Regions from separate parts of the Homo sapiens genome. Here region 2 is linked to region 1. Evidence: fine-mapped expression QTL. A gene starts in region 1. The other region holds a variant in brackets. All regions are shown on one strand. Distances are from middle to middle. Region 1 holds the start of KLRD1 (killer cell lectin like receptor D1). Region 2 holds the start of LOC105369656 (a long non-coding RNA gene).

Region 1 (9,249 bases):
GGTATAATCACAAGACTGAAAGTTCTCATTTATCAGGCCCATTCATATATGGAGAAAAAATACCACAAAATCTCACTTCCTGAAGAATTAAAAACCTTCTAAAAGGAGATAGAGTTTTCATGGAACACTTTCTTCACGGGGGATCAAAGATTAAATTTGATTCCAAAATCATGGTATTGTGAAGGAGGAATCCCATGGGTATAATCTACTCAACCTATAATCCGCAAAGGTGCCACGTGCAGCAGGAGAAGTTTTTCGCTTTTTCTTTTTTCTTTTTGTTGAGAGGGAGTCTTGCTCTGTCGCCCAGGCTGGAGTGCAGTGGGACGATCTCAGCTCACTGCAAGCTCTGCCTCCCAGGTTCACGCCATTCTCCTGCCTCCGCCTCCCGAGTAGCTGGGACTACAGGCGCCCGCCACCACGCCCGGCTAATTTTTTGTATTTTTAGTAGAGACGTGGTTTCACCGTGTTAGCCAGGATGGTCTCGATCTCCTGACTGTGATCCGCCCTCCTCGGCCTCCCAAAGTGCTGGGATTACAGGTTTCAGCCACTGCGCCCGGCCGCACTTTTTCTTAAGAACTGGGTAATTAGGGGCCGGGCACGGTGGCTCACGCCTGTAATCCCAGCACTTTGGGAGGCAGAGGTGGGCAGATCATGAGGTCAGAAGATCGAGACCATCCTGGCTAACACGGTGAAACCGCGTCTCTACTAAAAATACACAAAATTAACTGGGCGTGGTTGTGGGCGCCTGTAGTCCCAGCTACTCGGGAGGCTGAGGCAGGAGAATGGCGTGAACCCGGGAGGAGGAGCTTGCAGTGAGCCAAGATCACGCCACTGCACTCCAGCCTGGGCGACAGAGCGAGACTCCATCTCAAACAAACAAACAAACAAACAAACAAAAAAGAATTGGGTAATTAGGGCCAGGCACGGTGGCTCATGCCTGTAATCCTAGCACTTTGGGAGGCCAAGGAGGGTAGATCACCCGAGGTCAGGAGTTCAAGACCAGCCTCGCCAATACGGTGAAACCCTGTCTCTACTAAAAATACAAAAAGTGCCAGGCCTGGTGGCAGGTGTCTGTAATCCCAGCTACTCAGGAGGCTGAGGCAGGAGAATCACTTGAACCCAGGAGGTGGAGGCTGCAGTGAGCTGAAATTGCACCAGTGCACTCCAGCCTGGGCAACAGAGTAAAACTCTGTCTCAAAAAAAAAAAAAAAAAAAGAAAAGAAAAGAATTGGGTACGTTTTCTTACCATATTTCCATACTAGCTTATATCCCAGAAAGATGACAAAAACTATAAAATTATAAAAGATATTATAAATTCAATTAAAAGAGTTAAGAATCACAGTCATTTAGTTGGTTCTTCAAATAAAATGGGTAAATATAATGACCTATTATCTTCTTTGAATTCTTCCTGAAAAGTTTCTTTCACTTTATTTGGCACCTATCTTGATTTGTATTCCCATGATATAATCATTAAGGAATTTAATAAAGATTTTACAATGACTACTTTAAGGTACACAGAACAGATAACTCAATTCCAATATAACCATCCACTTACTATGTGATTAATGACTTAAACCAAAGTATTTAACTTGTTTAGATAGTATATTTTTCTAGATCAAAGAAAATGTAGAAAATCAGACTCAGCACATGCCAGTTCATCTGTGTTTTGAAGCTGAAGCAGGCTGGATTTCTGAGAAGCACAGAGATGCCGACTTTCGTTCCAAGTTTTCTGTTCACTGGAAATGAAGTAACAGTTGCACCGGTACCCAACCCATTTTTCTTGGCAAGAACAGCAGTCAGAGTCTGACAGAAAACATAAAGCATGACTAATGACACTGGAGACTAGACATTTTTTTCAATGCTATTTAATTATTCAAAAATTATTTGCTGTGTATTCTTTTAACATTCAGAATCTACTGTATACACCACACTTCAGGGGCTACTAATGTGAACTAATTAGACATGAACATGATGCTTTTTCCTCATGGAGATTATATTCTAGAGATAGAATTACAATTATATAATTTTCAATAATTTATTAACGATATTTAGTGATGATTTAGATAAGTACAAAAAAATTAAGTATGTTAAAACAGCATGTAGCAGAGTGTAAGATGAGGGGCAGTTACAAGAACCTTTTTTTGAGGAAGTGACTCAAAACTAAGTACTGTAGCATAAATAGGAGTTAACTAGATGAAAAAGATTTAAAGGAGGAAAACATTTTAGCATACTTTCTGAGTCAGAAAAGAATATGGTACATTTGGAGAATTTTGATATATGTTTGGATATCTTATTTTTGAAAAGGGAATATAAATAAACCAATTATCTTGAGGCTTAATTATACAGTTTATCAATAATAGTGTCTTCAACGTTTGTTACCCACGGTAATAAAAACATGACACGTCATAGGCACTCAAATCTTTGCCATATAAGTAGTGCTGAAGATGTTGCACTATTATTTTTATATTTTTTAATTGTTTTTGAGACAGAGTCTTGCTGTGTTGCCCAGGCTGGAGTGCAGTGGCACCATCTCAGCTCCCTTCAACCTCCGCCTCCCAGGTTCAAGTGATTCTCATGCCTCAGCCTCCTGAGTAACTGATACTACAGGTGCGTGCCGCCATGCCTGGCTAATTTTTGTATTTTTAGTACAGACGGGGTTGGCCTGTCTTGAACTTCTGACCTCAAGTAATATGCCTACCTCAGCCTCCCAAAGAGCTGGGATTACAGACGTGAGCCACTGTGCCTGGCCAAGATGTTGCACTGTAAATAAACACTATATAATCAAGATGATGGTGAGACAACTTGGGGCGCATTCCGAAAAATACATATTTAGAAAATTGAGGCCGGGCGCAGTGGCTCTGCTGGGTACGGCATAATCCCAACACTTTGGAAGCCGAGGCAGGTGGATGACCTGAGGTCAGGAGTTCGAGACCAGCCTGGCCAACATGGCGAAACCCTGACTCTACTAATAACACAAAAATTAGCTGGGCATGGTGGCGGGCGCCTGTAGTCCCAGCTACTTGGGAGGCTGAGGCAGGAAGGTGGGAGAATCACTTGAACCAGGGAGGCTGATGTGGCAGTGAGCCAAGATCGTGCCACTGCACTCCAGCCTGGACGACAAGAGCAAAACTCCATCTCCAAAAACGAAAATTGGACTTTGAGCTGGCTTTCACTGGATAAGTAAGGTTTAGAAATCTGTGCAGTATATTCTGGAAAAGGAAAAGTAGTGAGATGCAAAAGTATAGGTTATAAGCAAATTCAGGCAGGTAATGAGGATTAACTGTAACATTTCCTGTGGTTTATTTTTTGTTACTTAATTATGAGCACTCATATAGGAAACATATCTTTCGTTTCAGGCTACTATTTTCCTGATTAGTTAAATGTACAAATGATACACATTCAGTGTAATTTAATCATTTTTACATTAGATTGAGCAATGTAAAATGAGACTATCCTACACTGGTAGGCAAATTTCTATTACTAAGTATAATATTCCATCATGCCTCTCTGTGTGAAAAACAAGAAACTGCCTATTTAATCTTTTACCAATGCTAAGTTTTCCAAAAAATGTGACCTACCTTTCTGGAGTTCTATGTTGGGTCCTGGAGTAAATGCTGGCTCAATACTCAGTTTAGTAAAAGCTATAAGAAATGATTAGAAATTTGTTTAATTAGGTATGGGTTTATGAAATACTAAAATATTACACATTAGCAAGATGAAGCCTTTATTATTAAATGATGTCTTCACAGTTTTGATTTTTATGGAGACTTGCTTAGAAAAACTTACAATTTTTCAACAAAATTCCCAACGTAGACATCAACGAAAGGCATATTATCCCTAAGGTCCCAGAAATTAACCTCCACAGAGTGGTCTTAAACACTGTAGAGAAAGACAGACAGAGTAATGACTTAAAGAGCAAACTCAGGAGCTGAGTTCTTAAAAGCAGAAACTAGTGACGGAGAATCCACAACATTCTTTCATTTGATAACGGAGTCATCTTGCCAATAAAACACTGAAGACTTTCCAATCGGGACTTCACCCAATACCAACATTTTTATGTGATGTATCTTATTCTTCAGGAAGATTATTCAAACATTTTCTTCTCTACCAGCTCTGTTGCAGTAAAGTGAATTTACCATTTATTTTAAATTGGCAGAGGTGCTTAAAGATCTGGAGGTAGAAGATATTAACAAGCACCACGTTGTGTTTTATGGACTTACATAACAGGCATTTATTTTTATTCTCTCAACAAAATCACAAGATAGATAGTATGGTTCTCATTACATAGATGAGAAAACATAAGGTCCAATAATAATGTTATTTTCTCAAGGTATCAAAGCAAGTAAGTATCCAAGTCAGAAATCACATGAAAGTGTGTCTAGCTCAAGAATCTTTCATTCAACGTAGTCTACCATTGTCACAATAATACTAGTTGAGAGTATGCCCTCTCCTCATCTCAGTGCAGGTTTTGCTCTGATAAATGTCTAGCTGCTCATTGGTTCGTAGAGATATTATAGGGAAAAGAAGACATAGGAACATTCTGGACTTGGTGTGATAACTGATAACAAATTGATGGGTAACAACTTTGAGGCCTGGCTTCATTTCACAGTATATTGAACATACATAAACAATCCTTTTTCCCCTAGAACATTCCATTTGTTCATACTCAAAATTACTTGCTTTTAGGCCTTTCACCTAAAACATTTCAACATTAGGAGATTCTGTGCTAACGTGAACACACTCTCAAAGAGTGATGTCATTAACAACAGTACAATGTGTCAAACTGTTCATTTGTGTAATTTTTGGATGTCACAACATAAATAGTCAATTAAAACCTTTTCAGCATTGTGTCATTAATATTTGGCATTTTCTATTGCTATACTAGAACACTGTTGCTCACAATTTAACCAGGCTAAAGTTCAGTTCTCACTCAGAATTTAAAGGTAGCCCTGTCAGAAACCACTCTTCAAACCTGTGGAAAAAACTTCATGAAATCATGTCTAAGTTATACAATGAAGAATCAGGAAAATATAATGAATGTGGAAAGTGCTAATGCATGAAAATCCTAAAAACATCCACTGTTAATCATGTCCTTTTCTCTTAAAGCATTACCCCAAAATCAGCCAATCCAAGAAATAGCTTTTCTGGTTATTTTTAATTTAGTGACTGAAATCACACATACCTGCCATGAGAAATTATGTTCCAAGAGCGAAGTAGAGAAGGCACGATGTGTACTTTTTCAGAAAGAACAGCGTTGAATTGTTGAAGCTGAGCTGGAGATTAAAGAATCTGAAAGTTGAGTATGAAGAAATTTAGCAAAAATAGAGAATGAAAAATTGTGTATTTAAATGATGTTCTTGAATCATCTATTGGTGAGACATGTATTATAGTGTGAATAAGAAGCAGTAGAATCACAAGCCTCTGAAGTGTTCCAGGAACCACAATACAGGAAATTCTCACAGTACTTTTGCAATATTAACACTTTGGCAAGGACTAAAGAAGGTGAGAGGAGGTCAGAGGGAGTTTTGTTGCTGTTTTGTTTTTTATTGTTTGAAAATCAAATTCATTTTAAAGGGTTATCTGGAAAATGAAGGAAATGATGGGCAAACCAAAGGTAAATTTACTTAGCATAACAAAATTACTTACAGAATTTTCCTCTTTTAATAATAAACATTTATTATTTACCTTGTACTTAACACAATTTAAAGCACTTGGCATATCTTAGCTCATTTATTTCTGTAAATGGCTTGATAGTAAAGATATATAAATATCTTCAATCTATCAAAGAGAAAACTGAGGCATACAGAGCTAAGTAATTTGCCCAAGGTCACATAAATTGGGATTTCCATGTCTCACTCTGTTCTTCTGATCTCTACCTAATTATCCTGGCCACGACAGGCAAAGTTCAAAAAAGTAGAACTGGATGGGTTTCCCACTTGGACGCCTCATTCACGTTAGCCTTAAAAGCTTTTTTCAACACCTCAATTTTCATTTTCTTAAAGTTCTTTAAGCACGACTTCAGCTTCTTTATTTTCCTTATTTTTACTAATACATTATTATATTGTTTAGTGTGTTATCTAATTCAGATACTATACTGATACTTCGATATACACTTTTTCATCTACAGAAGAGTAACCTTGTTAATAGGAATATCAAATGTGGAACAGGTCAAATTTCCAATGTGGAAGAGATTGGCTATAATAAGAATCTTGAAAGGAGAGATTTCGATCCATGATTTAGTATCTGGAAATACAATCTACCATGCACCCCCATACAAAAGCAGACACTCAAATAAACGTTTTGTGTATTATATTTTGTATATTGTTTATGTTCAAGCATTATAATATTACTATAGATAAACCCTTTTGTAAAAGATGGGCTTTCAACCAACAACAGAAAAAAATGAAAGAAAAGACTACTTTGACTTCTCAGTTTTTATGAAGTCAAAACTTTCCATCTTTTCAGTTTGCATTGTGTGCCTAGAGCTGCTTTCATTGCACCAACAAATTTGTTGAGCTATAAATCCTCACTGAAGAATATAAGCGTAAAATCTACTTCATCCAGACTGTATGCAAATCTTAGTTGAAGTGATTTATTTAAAAATCCTTTGCTTACTTGAAATCTATTCATTTTTAGTGTTAGAAAAAGCTGGTCTGGAAGAAACCTGTCTGATACTATTTTTCCCCCATGTAAAATTGCCTCAAAATATAGGAGATTAGGGGTTTGCTTTTAGTTTTTCTCTTGAGAGAGTACAAATTTATGACAGAATGTGCAATAGGGATTATTACTACACTTTCATTACTAACACAACCACCTTTATTTGGAAGTTAGAGGTTCTAAGTTTTTAGAACCCTGTTTGGTGAGAATACGTCCATCAGTCATTGTCCTTTTTTTCATCTTAGTTCACTGACTTAGAAATAAAAATCCAACAAATACAAGTTTACTTCAAGAACTCCAGGCTTAAATATTTAAGATACCTAAACACACACACACACACACACATACACACACACAGTAAACATATATGTATATACCTCTTTAACTCTTTCTGAGCTGCCAACTCTGATTGTTCTTTTTTTGTTTGTTTTTGTTTGTTTGTTTTTTGAGATGGAGTCTCTGTCACCCAGGCTGGAGTGCAGTGGCTCACTCGGCTCACTGCAAGCTCCGCCTCCCGTGTTCACGCCATTCTCCTGCCTCGGCCTACCGAGTAGCTGGGGCTACAGGCTCCCGCCACCACGCCCAGCTAATTTTTTGTATTTTTTTTTTTTAGTAGAGACGGGGTTTCACCGTGTTAGCCAGGATTGTCTCGATCTCCTGACCTCGTGATCCGCCCGCCTCGGCCTCCCAAAGTGCTGGGATTACAGGCGTGAGCCACCGTGCCCGGCCTCTGTTCTTTCTATTTATTTTTGTACGTAGACAGGTGAATGATTTCCATGTACTGTATCTCTCCCACTCATCTCCACTTGTTCCTGAAGTTATCATTGCCTCGCCTATGTCCCTTGGAATATTTGGGGAACTATGGCCAACTAGTTATCTGTATAGCTGTATCTATGGGTTCTTTTTTTCTCCAATAACTGCTGAAAGCCTTGCTGTTCTCAGACATGCTAATCCGGAAGTGCTGAATAATCATCACCAGAATGGGCGTCAACAAACGAATCTTGTGATTTGCTATACAGTCCAGCAGTCTCAGCCCTAAAGTCAGGTAATTCTGAACATTGTGTTTTGCCCAGTTCCCAGAATTACTCAATAGTGTTATGTTCCAGTCACCTCCTCTAGAAGCTAGATTAAGAAAATAACCTTTATTGCGTTCCACTTTCCCTTTCCTATTACATTTCCTTTCCTACATTTATTGCATACACAATTCCAAATAAAGTTTCTACTCAAAGTATTCTCTGAGTGTGCTGCCGAGAGAAACCAGACTAAATTCCGCTGAAATATCCAGCTTCACTTACATAAATTTGCTTTTGAAAAGTTAGGTATCCTGCCAAAAGAACGTCTCTCTTTGCAGGACTTTCCATCCCCTAGTATCCATTGCAGGAAGATGCCCTCTTCCTCCCCTGCAATTTACTAGTGCCCTTGGTAAGAGCAAGTGATGACTTCAATAGCTAAGTCAACTTTTAAACCTTAGTCAAAAGCCAGGGAAAAGAAACTAATGTTCACTTAACATATAAACAGTGAAGTCTTTTCCCTACCTAAAAATGTATAACTAAAATGTTGCAGAACAAAATAACAGTATACGTTCTAGTATCCCCAAGGGAAAAATTTATTTTGATCTCACTGCTTTTAGAAAATGCATTCTTTGAGCGGAAAGAAAATTGCTCACATCAGGCTGCAAATTATTCTTTTAACAGAGAGAGAGGGCTCCCTGAGAAAAAACAAAAGACGTTACTGACCTGGTAAAATCTCATTGTAAACATGCTAATAACAAACCTACTAGCTATAGTGGTTTCTTATATATAGTGTGTTTTGCTTGCAAAATCCTTATCAATGGAATGATTTTAGCAGGATGTATTAGATTGTCTAAAATTGTTAGTGGTAAAATCAAATAAAAAAATAAAACTAAGGCTGGGCATAGTGGCTCACGCCTGTAATCTCAGCTCTTTTGGAGGCCAAGGCAGGTGGATCACCTGAGGTCAGGAGTTCAAGGCCAGCCTGGCCAACATGGAGAAACCCTGTCTCTACTAAAAATACAAAATTAGTCGGGCATGGTGGCACTCACCTGTAACCCCTGCTACTTGGGAGGCTGAGGCATTAGAGTCTCTTGAACTTGATGAGCTGAGATCGCACCATTGCACTCCAGCCTGGGTGACAAGAGCAAAACACACTATATAAAAAAAAAGCATAAAACTAGAATCTGTGGGTTTATGGAGGCTGGCTTCCTGGAAAAATGTCACATAAGCTATGTGTAACCATAACCATGTAACCATCTGAGTATAAAATGGAGATGTGTCATAACCAAAACATCTCCTTTTGTGTAAACGGTGCAGCCACAAACACCATTAAGAGACCTCATATGTTTATCTGTTTGTCTGGGCCAGAGTGTGTCCTAAGGGGAAAGTAAGAATGAGTGGGTGCTTTTGCAGGCCTGGGTTTTCCACTGTTTTGTCTGCATCTCACAATTATTGTATAACTGAAATTATGAGTAAAGCATGATACTGGGTGAAATCTCTGAGGATGCTTGTGATACTGATTTGACAATCCAATCCTTTATGTTACCTTCTTGAAGAACTGGTTAAGTTTTGTCCACAT
Region 2 (9,249 bases), 21 kb after region 1:
AGGAGAGCATTAGGACAAATACCTAATGCATGTAGGGCTTAAAACCTAGACGATGGGTTGATAGGTGTAGCAAACCACCATGGCACATGTATACCTATGTAACAAACCTGCACGTTCTGCTTGTGTATCCTGGAACTTAAAATAGTATAGGATTAAAAAAAAAAAAAAAAGATGTGGCTGAATTGATGCAATCTTGTGACAGAGCTTTCATGGGTGAGGAACTGCTTTTTATAGATGAGGAAAGAGACATTTCTTGGGATGGAATCTACTCCTGGTGAAGATGTTGTGAACATTGTTGAAATGACAACAAAGAATTTAGAATATTACAAAAAATGTAGTTGATAAAGCAGTGGCAGGGTCTGAAAGGATTGATTCCAATTTTGAAAGTTCTACTGTGGGTAAAATGCAATGAAACAGCATCATAGACTACAGAGAAATCTTTTGTGAAAAGAAGAGTCAGTCAATGCAGCAAACTTCATTGTTGTCTTATTTTTAGAAATTGCCACTGTCACCCCAGCCTTCAACAACCACCACCCTGATCAGTCAGCAGCCATCAATGAGGCAAGATCCACCAGAAACAGAAACAGACTAGGACTCTCTGAAAGCTCAGCTGATTGTTAACATTTTCTGGCAATATTTTTAATCAAGGTATGTACATTGTTTTTTAGATATAATAATTTTGAACACTTAATAGACTGCAGTACAGTGTAAACATTTACATGCATTGGGAAACAAAAAAAATTCATGTGACTTGCTTTATTGCAATAATTGCTTTTTTGTGGTTGTCTGGATCAGAGTGCACAGTATCTCTGAGGTATGCCTATATTTTACATAACTAGAGTACAATGTCAAAACCAGGAAATTGACATTGGTACAATCCATAGACCTTATTCAGATTTTAGTAGTTTTATATATCCATTCATTTGCTTGTGTGTATTTGTGTATATATATATATGTCATTTTATGCAGTTTTATCATGTGTAAATTCATGTAACCATCATCACATAACCTCTGATTTTATATTCCAGAAAATACTTGCCACCAATTATTTTGTTACTCTGCAGCATGGTTATTAAAGATAAATACTGAAACTTTTCCTTTATTTACCAATTTTCATTTTAATAAGTTTGTTTATTAGGGGAGAGTTGTGAACATTTATTGAGCACACATTACACGCCAATTCTAGTGCTTGACATGTATGTCTCATTTCAATGTGTGTGTGTTTGTGCGTGCATGTATCAGGCATTCTATTATGTCCAATGCTTTCTTTAATATAAATAAGATCACACAGATTTACCTAGCAATATGAAATCATTTTAAATTCTTTCTACCTCTGATTATTCTAAATTCCTTCTACCTCTGATTATTCCTAGAGTTAAAGATCCTAACATCATTTTAAATTAAATAGCCAGCTTCCTATTGGTCATTCTATCCATGGAACTTTTCTAAGAGTGGACTTTATAGGTCTTGCTCTGGCCTTTCCCAAGGAGTAGAGATGACCATTTCGTAGCTACAATCCAAGTAAGGAAATATTTGCCATGGTAGATGTTTGCTATGTTGACTTTCAGTTCTTATTCAACATACCATTTTAATTTACGTTGTCCAATGCCTTTGCAGTTATATTTTGGGCGTTGGAAACTGCCTTGTTGTTGTTCTTACAAATATGGTATCATTTTACAGTTTCAATTTTAACTAAAAATTACAAATTCAGCTGGATGGGGTGGCTCACGCCTGTAATCCCAGCACTTTGGGAGGCCGAGGTGGGCGGATCACCTGAGTCGGGAGTTCAAGACCAGCCTGACAAGCATGGAGAAACCCCATCTCTACTAAAAATACAAAACTAGCTGGGTGTGGTGGTGCATGCCTGTAATCCCAGCTACTCGGGAGGCTGAGGCAGGAGAATCGCTTGAACCTGGGAGGCGGAGGTTGCAGTGAGCCAAGACTGCACCACTGCACTCCAGCCTGGGCAACAAGAATGAAACTCTGTCACACACACAAAAAAAATTACAAATTCAATTATGGATATGGACCAGATACATTACACAAACATTTCCCCTTTTTGCATCTGTATCAAGTTAAAAGAATCCAGAAAACTGCTTCCCACTAAAAGAAATAAGCAAATAAACAAACCAAACCAAAGCAACTACCAATTCCACATGTGGTTCGGGAATAGGCAGACTCCGAAAGAAACAAAATAATGTTCAAGTTATGCATATAAGTAAATCTACACTGCCCAGTAGCTATTTACAAAGTGACATGTTTATGTAGTAAAAGAAGTGTGCAAATAGTGGTCACAGAATTAGCAACATACATTTTGAATAAAACATTGACAGTTTCCCTGATTGTTTAGCATAGAAAGAAGTTTATGAAGCCAGAATGGAGAAAACATAACTCGTTTCAAAATTTCTTAATTAGAGTCCTTAATGTGTATCTTTTCTAAATAATAGGTTAGTCCTTTATATAGGACCTAGCAAGGTGTAAGAACCTCATGAAAGAGCTGCAAAGAGCTCAGCTGCAGCTGCAGCTTGTCAACTCCTATGTGGCTGGAAACAAGTTTCTCTGTGGTGAACTGTTGGGTGGCCTTTAGGGTTCTCATTCTGAAATAACAAACCAAAGTCAACATATTGGTCACTTCCTAAATTCCAAAGCCCGCGTAATGTCACTAAGTGTCAGTGAAGTGGAACTGAGCCCCTGTCTTAGCCTTTAGGCAAAACTGTCTACATTGCAAAGCTCTATGGTCAGTATCTGCCGATGGAACTTGGGCATAAAGAAAAAGAGACACAGGAGGTAAAAGGATGCCCTAACTCAGAATAATAAGACACATAAATACTCAAACAGGAGATGAAGAATCAGATCAGTAAAACTCTATCAGACTAACCAACTCACCTTCTAACATTTTGTGACTAGACACTCATTTGGTACGCATTAAACACTTTATACATTCTCAAGTTCCAGTAGCCTGAAGTAAATCTTAAAAAAAGAGTCTTATAAAGGATTATTGCTAATATTTTATAATTTACCTCTAATTCTTTCATAGTGATGTATGTAGTCTATAATTGATATTTAATGATTATGTATAAAACCATTAAAAATTTTTGAGTTTACTTTATGCCAGGCTCTGTGTTTGATTATTTTATAACTTTTACTTCATCTAATCTTCATAAACCCTATGATATTGATAGTAATAGTTCTTAAATTTCATAGTTGAAGACACAGGAGATTATCAAGGAAACACGCTCAAAGTCAACCAAGCAGTGGTCAAGCTGAGTCTCACTAACCTTTGTCTACCTCTACCTCTAACGGATTAAAATCTAGAGAGTCATTTTGCATAACTGTAAGAAAATTATATTTTATTTTGCCTCGATTGTGCTGGGAATTTTTAGTTTTTGTTCAAATTTAGATAGATAAATTGCCACAGATATATTGAATGTAGGTTTATTATATAATAATTACAACATATTTACATAATGTATACATATGCATATATATGCATGCACACGTACTTGACTATGTACTGACTGATCTTTCTTTTTTTTTTTTTTTGAGACGGAGTCTCGCTCTGTTGTCCAGACTGGAGTGCAGTGGCGCAATATCGGCTCACTGTAACCTCCACCTCCTGGGTTCCAGCGATTCTCCTCCATCAGCCTCCTGAGTAGCTGGGATTACAGGCACGCACCACCATGCCTGGCTAATTTTTGTACTTTTTTTTTTTTTTTTTGAGACAGAGTCTCGCTCTGTCGCCCAGACTGGAGTGCAGTGGTGCGATCTCGGCTCACTGCAAGCTCTGCCTCCCAGGTTCACGCCATTCTCCTGCCTCAGCCTCCTGAGTAGCTGGGACTACAGGCGCCCGCCACCACGCCCGGCTAATTTTTTGTATTTTAGTAGAGACAGGGTTTCACCATGTTAGCCAGAATGGTCTCGATCTCCTGACCTCATGATCCGCCTGCCTCGGCCTCCCAAAGTGCTGGGATTACAGGCATGAGCCACTGCGCCTGGCCTGATCTTTCTTACAGAGGTAAAAATCCGTATTTAGACAGATAATTAAACTAAGTTATCCCCGTAGTTTTGTATAACCTAGGGGTGGTTTTTAAAGTCCTAGCAAATTTTTAGTTACATATTTTATTTCCTCGTTTCTCCATTTCATGCTTCTGTCTTCTAAGAAGCATAATTTAATTCGTAAAAGTATCTGTTTATATATAACAATATCTATTTATAGGTTTTATAATACTTCAGTATATAAATAATTCACTTGAAAAGGATGTTGGCACCAAAATGGATGGTCTTTTTTAAAACTTAGAATTTATTTGGATTTGTTTGAAGTTAGGTTTCATGGGAGGAAATGCTCTCATTATTTGTATAACATTTTTTTGCAACCTATCTGTGAGAGGTCTGAGTGTTAAATAAAAAAAAATTCGGAGTTATTTGTATATATGCATGTATTTGTGTATGAAACAAATACCAGCAAATACTTATTGACTATACCAATCTCATACATACCCTTGCATTCTCCCATGGCTGTCTAACTTCAAACCTGTGCCTTACAATGCATATCCATCTTTGCTTTTAGGTACAGTTTCACCACGGTTTTTAATCATCAAAAAAACACAAACAGATAAACAATAAAAAAAAAGAGGGTTTTGTTTTTGTTTTGAGACAGAGTCTCACTCTGTCACCCAGGCTGGAGTGCAGTGGTACAATCTCAGCTCACTGCAACCTCTGCCTCCCGGGTTCAAGCGATTCTCCTGCCTCAGCCTCCTGAGTAGCTGGGACTACAGGCGCACCACCACGCCCGTCTAATTGTTGTATTCTTAGTAGAAATGGGGTTTTGCCACATTGGCCAGGCTGGTCTCGAACTCATGACCTCAGGTGATCCCCCTGCCTCGCCTCCCAGAGTGCTGGGATTACAGGTGTGAGCCACTGCACCTGGTGCCCAGTGAGGTTCTTTATAAGAACAAAACTGAATGTAAACAGTTACGGGACCAGATGCGGTGGCTCATGCCTGTAATTCCAACACTTTGGGAGGCCAAGATGGGAGCATGACTTGATCTCAGGAGTTTGGGACCAGCCTGGGCAACAAAGTGAGATCCCGTCTCTATAAAAAAAAAAAAAAAAAAAAAAAAAAAGCACCATAAGCGAAATAAAATGATGATTCAAAGACTATTTTGCATTCAAAACTAATTTCTAATCAATCCTTATCAGGTAATTATTCTTTCTGCTTCTTCAATCTGCTAAATACAAGATGTCAAAAGTGAGTAGTTTCAAATGTTTGATTCTGCTTTTGGTAGATCGTAAACTTGAGTAGGTTACATAACCCCTTTAAGATTCTTTTCCATCATGTGTAAAACGTAAAATGCAACTAAATAGTTTATTGGAAATATGTTCTGAGAATGGTTTAATGTATAAACATATAGGGTATTTAACACCTAATTAGTGCTCAAAACCATTAAGAAACATATTGAGGTAGATAGGACATAAGCTATTCATTATTAGTTACAGTGAGTTTGCAGACTGAACTTTAAGCTTTCACGGAAATCTCCGGACTCTGATATGACCCTGGACCCCTGTGAGACCTCAGTCATCAGTACACTTTATGTGTAACAGGTGTGGCTGACACATCACACC[G/A]TATGGTACAGAATGTTTCCAACCACAGAGTTGCTGCTGCCTAAAATAACAGTTAACACCTACACTGGTCTTGGTGTGGCCGCAGGATGTTGGGGATAAAGTGGATGGGTAATGGGTAGAGGAAATGGCGTGTCTGGCGAAAACAGTAAGATGCTGTTGCAAACAATATTGGGAGTTGAAGCAATTTACCTGGGCAAAAAGCAGAAGACACAGCTTAAGGAGGAGAGAAGAGACCAGAACTGAGGTTTACAAGCATGGATGTGGCTGATCACTAGCACTGTAGCTGCGCTATTTTTGTTATTCCAGCAAGTGTAAACATAGGAAACATTACTAAACTTAGAGCTGTGACAATATTTACCTGTTAAGAGAAGAGGAGGGAATAGGAAAGAGTCAATCACAAAGAAAAAATAACATAAGAATCATAAAGCATTGACTGGACTGTAAATACTAGTCATATTTTCTATGAGATGATTTTTAACTGGAATTTTCTTCGGATAATGTGCTTAGAGATAGCGTGTTTTGTAGGTGGAAATAATGGGCAGGTAAAGACACACAAAAAAAACAACTTTAAGGTACCATGAAGAAAGATGTTAAATAAAACCATGTGAAAAATTATCCTGGTGACTATTGATACACAAAGGACTTATTTCATATTGGAAGCTTAAAGAAAGGAATGGTTTGTCCCTGAGTTATTTCAGAACCCTTATCATGACAGAATGGTGACTGTAACAGGAATTTTTCAGACTAGACATAAAGATGGTTCACATGAGAGGAAAAGAAAACTAGCATATGGCAAAAATAATTTCTAGAATAAACGTGACTTGACTGGCTGTGGTTTTACAGACTGTTTTTAAAAGAAGGAACCCATTTTTATCAGTCACACGACTCTCTACTTAAATTTCAATTTTAGCAACAACACAATCTAAAGGTAAGAATTTATTTTATAAATAGTAGTAAAGAATTTTGAAAATACAGAAATGATATTTTACTCCAGGTTAATATGCAACATTGCTAGCATGGTACACTGGCAACATCAGTAGAGCCAGATAATGAAGAGAAATCTCACAGGAATAGGGCATAGATTGTTCTTTTATATATAGTTCTCTCACCATACATCTAAAAACTTTTAAGTGGAAACTAAATGATGTGTAGGATACAGAGACCCTAATTTCTTTTTTTTTTGAGATGGAGTTTCGCTCTTGTTGCCCAGGCTGGAGTGCAATGGCACGATCTGGGCTCACCGCAACCTCCGCCTCCCAGGTTCAAGCAATTCTCCTGCCTCAGCCTCCTGAGTAGCTGGGATTACAGGCATGCACCACCATGCCCGGCTAATTTTGTATTTTTAGTAGAGACGGGATTTCTCCACGTTGAGGCTGGTCTCGAACTTCTGACCTCAGGTGATCTGCCCGCCTTGGCCTCCCAAAGTGCTGGGATTACAGGTGTGAGCCACTGTGCCTGGCCCAGAGACCCTAATTTCTTATCTGAAATTTGTGGAGAGAAATGTACTTTAAAATTTATTAGTTTTTATTTTAAAATATATGTGTTTATACATACATGAATTAACAGCCTCATTGGCATTTGATGATTCACGCTATAACCCAGCACATTAATATTTCCACAGCAAAATGTATAAAACAAAAACTATGATTAGCTAAGTTCAGGTTTTGGAACCAAACTAATGAAAACATTTTGTTTACAGAGATTTGGTTTTTAGCCTTATGGATAAAGAACTGGGGACTTATCTCCTGTGTCAGTATGTGGATTAAATTATACTCAATTCTTTGTTCAAAACACCTATTCCCCACTTACTGAGCCCCTCCACATGTGGTTTCATACTGATAATTTATCTGAGTGATTTTACACACATGTTATAGTAAACCTATGTATAGATTGGACAAGGTAAGTTGAATCTCTTCACAGAATATTGTGTTAACAAGTCTTTTGTTGTTGTTGTTGTTGTTGTTACTGTTGTTTTTTGAGAGAGAGTTTTACTCTTGTCACCCAGGCTGGAGTGCACTGGTGCGATCTGGGCTCACTGCAACCTCCACCTCCCAGTTCAGGTGATTCTCCTGCCTCAGCCTCCTGAGTAGCTGGGATTACAAGCGCCCACCACCATGCCCAGCTATTTTTTTTTTTTTTTTTGTATTTTTAATAGAGATGAGATTTCACCATGTTGGCCAGGCTGGTCTTGAACTCCTGACCTCAGGTGATCCGCCCACCTCGGCCTCCCAAAGTGTTGGGATTACAGGCATGAGCCACCATGCCCAGCCAACAAGTCTTACTTTTGATTGAGTATGAGAAGTATCTCTCCCAAAATATAATGGTTCTATGCATTGATAGATTTGGTTTCTTCCACTCTGTCAGTCACTTTTCTCTTTGTCCTCCCTGGTTTTCCCCTGTTCTGCTTGTTTCTTGGGGTGCTGATTCCTGCAACACATGTTTCACCACCTCCATGGCTAACCAGCTTCCAGGTAGGTGGAGTCAATGGAGCCACTGGGTTGAGATTTGGAAGGTAGGAAGAGGGGAGAAGCCTGTTATTTTGTCTTTCCCCTCTCTGCTTCAGGCTTTATCTCCTGCAGTGACCACACATGCTATGTACTGGTCTGTTTTATTTAATTTTAATATTTATTTTATTGTGATAGGAATACACCATGAGATCTACTCTATTAACAAATTTTGAAATGTACAATACAATATTGTTAAGTCTAGGCACAATGTTGTACAGCAGATCTCTAGAGCTTACTCATTTTGCATTACTAAAACCTTATCCCCACTCTCCGCTCCTCACTGTCCCTGGTAACCACTATTCTGCTCCTTGCTTCTATGAATTAGACTATTTTAGATGCCTCATACAAATGGAATCGTGTTTTTGTCCTTCCCTCATGCTATGTTGTTTGAACTGCTGCCAAATAGCAACTGCCTCGTGGCAGGCACCAGCCACTGTGGTGCCAGTCCCCATCAAGTGGTTCTGGTAAACCCACCTGCTCCCTTGTTTCCTCTAGCTCTGGGAATAGTACCAGCTTTCTGTTTTGCCCATATCTGAATTGTCTTCTTTCTCCTGACGGACTCTTAGATTTCTCCAACTGTTTGATAAATACCCTCCTCTGTTAACTTCCCTCTATGTAATGACTTGGCACAGAATTTGTTTTCCTGCCTGGACATTCACGAATACATCAACCTACCTTGAATAATATCTACTACACTCTTGTTTCCCTGACAATTTCTCTGTCTTTATTTCTACCTATTTCTGCTCAGTCCCTCCCTCTGATCTAGCCCCAATGCTACTTCTCAAACAAACCATTCAGTCTTAGGTTGTAGAGACTGTCCACTATTTGAACAGTTCCTTGCTCAAATATTTTAGAGACTCTCTACGTCAAACGTCGCTCATTTGACATTACTCAAATGACACCTCCTTTGGAATGCCTTCCTTGAACACATCTTCTAACTTTGTACCCACATCATTATGTATGCTCTACAATATTTCTTACAAAAGAGAAAGAAGCCAAAGTTCAGTCACAGGACCAATAACTTAAAGCCAAAATATAAAGTGGCATACCATTTTAAACATAATACTATATATGAACTTTATAGTAATTATATTTTTATTTGCCAGATGTGGTGGCTCAC

Evidence for each region. PIP is the estimated chance that this variant, and not a neighbour inherited with it, causes the effect.
Region 2: its variant is fine-mapped to the expression of KLRD1 in whole blood (TOPMed, PIP 0.97).

What each region holds. Positions count from the first base shown.
Region 1 is chr12:10,304,018-10,313,266 of GRCh38, reverse strand. KLRD1 (killer cell lectin like receptor D1) reads right to left here and starts at 5,397. Exons shown (of 6, transcript NM_002262.5): 1 at 5,183-5,397; 2 at 3,787-3,879; 3 at 3,579-3,641; 4 at 1,652-1,803. The coding sequence starts at 5,189.
Region 2 is chr12:10,282,537-10,291,785 of GRCh38, reverse strand. LOC105369656 (a long non-coding RNA gene) reads left to right here and starts at 542. Exons shown (of 2, transcript XR_931353.3): 1 at 542-648. It also overlaps a transcript of KLRD1 not described here. The variant G/A (reference allele first, on the strand shown) is at 5,623.